Regions from separate parts of the Homo sapiens genome. Here region 2 is linked to region 1. The links come from fine-mapping of genetic effects on gene expression. Tissue or cell type: whole blood. Region 1 holds a variant in brackets; the other region holds the start of a gene. All regions are shown on one strand. Distances are between the middles of the regions.

Evidence for each region. PIP is the estimated chance that this variant, and not a neighbour inherited with it, causes the effect.
Region 2: it holds the start of SLC39A10, and the variant in region 1 is fine-mapped to the expression of SLC39A10 in whole blood (TOPMed, PIP 0.92).

Annotation. Positions count from the first base shown.
Region 1 is chr2:195,609,573-195,612,261 of GRCh38, reverse strand. No RefSeq gene overlaps it. Among named protein-coding and RNA genes, the nearest start is that of LINC01827, 36 kb to the right of the region's middle. The variant T/C (reference allele first, on the strand shown) is at 1,350.
Region 2 is chr2:195,655,949-195,658,637 of GRCh38, reverse strand. It overlaps SLC39A10 (solute carrier family 39 member 10), which reads right to left and starts at 1,412. Exons shown (of 10, transcript NM_020342.3): 1 at 1,357-1,412. RefSeq lists silencers at 644-743, 944-1,063, 1,094-1,143.

The DNA.
Region 1 (2,689 bases):
ATAGAAGTATTTCTATGGTCACCACTCATCAACACAAATATTTATCTTTTTCCTCTCAACTTTGGCCTGTAGAGTTTCTATTCCATCTTGAAATAAAACTGCTTCCAGCACGTGGGTGATGGGGCAAAACACTCATCTTAGAAGCTCCACTCTACCAGCCCTAAATGCTAGAGGGAAAGTCATAGACAAACTCGAACTATATTTTAATCTTCTAATATGAATGTTAAAAACTAGAAATTGAAAAGTCATTTGTATTTTTTCCTTAGATTAACCTTTTTTTTGGTTGAAGGGCTAATGTCCAGAACTTGGCTTGCCATGTTTGCACAGCCATTTGTCACTATTTTCATATCACTTTCAATTTATTTTGCACTACCAAGTGGCTACTTTTAACAGGTTCTGTGGCTTGAAATAATTTGATTTATCATAAGGCTTCTCAAACTTCATTTGGCATAAACTTTATTGGAAATGACTGTACTATGATATCAAACATTGAACAATGATGTGATAAAGAATATGCATTTTTACTATAAGTAAACAAACAACACAATTAAAAATAAGCTGACATTCCCAAAATGAACACACAGTTTAAAAGACTATCCTTAATCTTAATGAAAGAAATTAAGATCTCTGTAATAAAAAAATAAACTACTGGGCAAATAACTTGCTATGTACAGATTATTTTAACTAGTTTCCTAGATGATCTATATACAAAAATTGAAAAGGGACAGTGTTGGTTAGGCAGTGGCTCATGCCTGTAATCCCAGCACTTTGGGAGGCCGAGGCAGGAAGATTGCTTGAGCCCAGGTGTTCAAGATCAGCCAGAGAAACACAGTGAGACCCCATCTCTTTTTTTTTTTTTTTTTAAGACAGAGTCTTGCTCTGTCACCCAGGCTGGAGTGCAGTGGCACGATCTTGGCTCACTGCAACCTCCGCCGCCTGAGTTCAAACAATTCTCATGCCTCAGCCTCCCAGGTAGCTGGCACTACCGGCGTGCACCACCACTTCCAGCTAATTTTTCGTATTTTAGTAGAGAGGGGGTTTCACCATGTTGTCCAGGCTGGTCTTGAACTCCAGAGCTCAGGCAATCCACCCACCTTGGCCTCCCAAAGTGCTTGGATTACAGGCATGAGCCATGGCGCCTGGCCTGAGACCCCACCTCTACAAAAAAATTAGAAAAAGAAACAAAGAAAAAAAAAGAAAAGGGATAATGTCTAGGTAACTAGTTAATTTATTAATGTAATAGATTCTAGGGCTCAACAAAAAACTTGAATGTCTAATTACTCTGCATTTGAGGAAGCAAAATAAAGTAACAACAAAAGCAGAGACATTTAAGGAAATGAAATAAGGAA[T/C]CAAAACATAAGAGTCAGCAATGGAGATGGCTTGTCATAGTGCACAAACCATAGTGAATACTTAAAGATACATTTTACTGTGTTTCTCAGCCTCCCTGAGATTCATTCAACAGTTTGGAGTCTTCATCAAGTTAAACAACAAACAAAGCAACAACAAAAAAAGCCTTTCAGAAAAATACTTAAAGTCAACCAAATTACCTACTGAACTTTGCCCTAAAATTTGCACTAGACACTATGATTTTATCACTTTTTAAAGGGATACAACAAAGTTTTTTAAAAGAATTTCCAGAGGGCATAAAGTGTTTCCAAAAGTGAGGAAAAGAAGTCTATAATCATGTAAGCATTACTTATTTAGCCATTGCAAATTAAGATGATCAGATATCTCCATAAAATGGGAATTATTAATTTAAAATTTTATACTAACATGCCTACACATTTTCCCATCCTCCCTCCCTCCTTTTCTCCTTCCCTCTCTTTCTCTCTCTTTTCTAAAATCTGGGGCTACAGAGGAGTGAGTTAGTTTGTTTGCTTGTTTGTTTTGAGACACAGTCTTGCTCTGTCTCCCAGGCTGGAGTGCAGTGGCGCAATCTCAGCTCACTGCAACCTCCGCCTCCTGGGTTCAAGCGATTCTCCTGCCTCAGCCTCCCGAGTAGCTGGGACTACAGGGGCATGCACAGAGATTTTTCATCTTCCTTTAAATTCTGGTGCCAAAGTAACCAAACCAACGTGGAGCAAGATTAGCTGGGAACATGTAAACCCTCTGCAGAATTTTATTTATCACAATTTCTACAGGGAGTGGCATGAAAAAATTAAGAATCCACAGTGGAGATGTTCAAGGCATCTTCACGTGTAATAGCAATATTCATCAATAAAAAGATTCATCAACAGGGAAGGATATGTTGTGGTACATTCATGCCATGGAATACTATGAAACAAAATAACAAATTACTGACACATGAAAGTACATAGTTTATGGTTCCATTCACATGAAGGTAATAGCAGAGTTTACCAGGGAGGAGTTATTGGTTGGGAAAGGGCCCCAGGAGCCTTCTGTGGGCTAAAAATGTGCTAGATCTTGAGTTGAGTGAAGTATACAGGTATATCAATGCATAAACATTCATTGAGGTATAATATGATTTGCACACTTTCCTGTATCTAGGTTGTTCCACAATTTAAAATTTCAATAATGAAATTAAAGAAAAATTCACAATAGAGGGAAAAAAGTCCAAGTTAGAAAGCCGCCACCAAAATGCCAACAGGTTCAACAAAGTGGAATTCTCAAGAAAGAGAATTCCCGCTTTAAAAAGTACAGAGAAATAACCCCCTTCCCCAGGGGTTGA
Region 2 (2,689 bases), 46 kb before region 1:
ATACTAAGTTAGAAGGAACTAAGTTCTACATCTCCAGCTTTTCCATTACTTGCTTTTTCTTAATTATGTACAATTTAGATACACATCCAAAAAGAAAACAAATACAAACCTATTCTAGTTTTGCTCCAAGAATGACTCAGTTCCAATGTAAAATTAGAGGACTTAACAGCAAAAGGCATAAATAAAAGTTTCTTTTAAAAAACAGTATAACCTACCATACTTTTTGTTTTTTTCTAACATGTGTTTTGTGTCACTGTTACTTAGAATAGGTACTCGAGTGAACGACCCTTCCAACGGAGGGCTTCAGGTTCTGCAGTGATATTTCTTCCTCGTGCCAGATCCTTAGTACAGCCCATGTGGACAGGCTCCCACGTGAACATTTCTTTACAGAAGCCACAGGAAGACCTTGAACGTCATGTTGCTCGCGCCCTGGCAAGGCCCCCGCCCTTCTTAGCTGGGGCGTTCGAGGGACCCCAGGAGAGGCAAGGAGTTCAGCAGATTCCCAGACCCGGAGAGGCGGTGCGCGAAGGTTCCTCTACGCGATCCCCCTGCCGCGCCCCACATCGCTCTCCACCTAAGGGCTTTCCGGAACAAAGCCGTGCGGCCGCGCCACCTCCGGCCCACCCGGCCTGTCCCACCGACCCGGCCCCACCCTCACCCTCAGCTCCAGGGACCCCCAGCAGGCCGAGATCTTCACACCCCCGCGCTCCGCCTCGGCTTTTCGGTTGGTCCGGGAGAAAACTAGTAGGAGCAGAGGCGCCGCCGTCCGTTAGCCTCGGTCCGGAACAGCGGTGCCGAGGCTCCATCCCGGGGTCCCCTCGCCCCATTACAGACCAGAGAGAAGGACTGGAGAAGAAAAAACCGGGGCGCTGGTCGCCAAGCCCCCGAAGACCTGCCTACAGATCCCCAAAGCCTCGCCCGCCCGCGCCTGCGACGCCATCCGCGGCCGGCGCGCAGCCCCCTAACCGCCGCCACCCGCCCAGCGGTCACTCCCCCACCCCGGGCGCGGCCCGCGAGGCTCCGCCAACCTCCACAGGAAGGTGAGGGGGGCGCGAGGCTCCGCACGCGAAGTGGATGCCGCCGGCTCCCGATCCCGCGGCCCGCAGCAGCCCAGACCGCACACGAGGAGCCGCGGCGCCCAACACTCTGCCCACCACGCGCTCTGCTTCGGCTGGCCGCCGCCGACTGCAGCAGCTGCGGGAACCCCAGCGCCCGCATCCCCGAGGGAACCAGCCCCGACTCCCCGGTTCTGTTCTCCCTTTCTACCCCCACGCCGTCCCGGGACTCGCAGTCTCCGCCGCGCACGGGGCCGGTTCTGGGGGAGGGAATGTAAACAAATCGGGGTTTTATAGTTACCTCACACTCGAGTGCCGTGTGCATCTCCTCTCCGCTCGGTACCAAACCCCGGCTGCACCAAATCGTGTATTCACCAAAGCAGACTGCGCTAACTGCGTCGCAGAAACCGGCGCGTCTGACACCCTGCTACGCTTGCGGCGTACAAGGTCCACTCAGCTCCCTGCGCAGCCGCACCCCGTCCGCCTATGGGTGCTACGCTATGGGCGTACACGCGCCACCTAGCTATTCACTTCGGATAACGCCAGTTGCGTAAAGGAGTCGCACTACTCACGGATTCCACATGGATCGTCCGAGGAATAGGAAATTCAAGTCTACGCAAACTGCGGAGTTCCGTGGCTCCGCGCTAGTTTTGTTCCAAGAAAGAACGCCGCGGGGGAGTTGGGGCGGCTTCTTAACGCATGCGTGGAGCGCCCTTTATCATTCGCCTTTTCTCCTGGCTTTCGAACGTCGGTTGCTGAGGCCTTGGGCAAGGCGAATGAGTAATGGAAGCTCTAAACCCAAACGCTTTAGCCAAAAAGCTTCAGAGTGATCAACTGGAATGTTCATCTGTATACGAGTTAAACATCTACGTTAAGTTAACCCCGCCCCCTTTGTTAAAGTAACCTTTTCAGTCTCTTAGGGCAACAGCGAACTTTATTTAGTGCTAAGTGCGAGGTGTTTTGCCTAGCTCCCCTTCCCACCCATTTAATTCTAAAGCACACTTACTGCGGGTCTTCCAAACCTAAAAGAAAAAGTTGAGTCCTGAGAACATGTCACACATGTAGAGAAATTCTCGAGGCTTTTGGCAACTTTCCAAGGTCTTCACTCCTCTACTCCTCAACTGATCGACTATTTCTTAACACTCTATGACAAAAAAATCCCGATCCAGCCAAGCAGTTCCATGGACTTGTGCCTACACCGTGCTCATTCTTGCCCTTTGCTCACGCCATACATCCCATCTAAATTGTCTCCTCCCCTCTTAAGCAACCACCAACCCACATTTTCTTAAAAGGTGACTCTGGACGTCTTATTTTTGCTTCATTACTCTGCTTCCTGGCTCTTACTTAATCCACATGTTGAGGCGTATCTGCATTCCGCCTGGGGTGCCTGTGTTTCTATATCCAACCAGAATCTACTTAACACAGCGAGTTCTGGGGGTGCCTTACTGGTGTCTAGTAGAGAAAATAAAACCATGAACAGCAGTAATCGCAGGCTTGACTGTGTGTCAAGTACTCCACATATATATTAATTTAATCACCATAACACGGTGAGGTAGGAAACTGAGGCACACAAGACTTTAACTTGCCTGGTATCACAGAGCAGGTAGAGAAAAGAGTTGGGATTTCCAAACCCA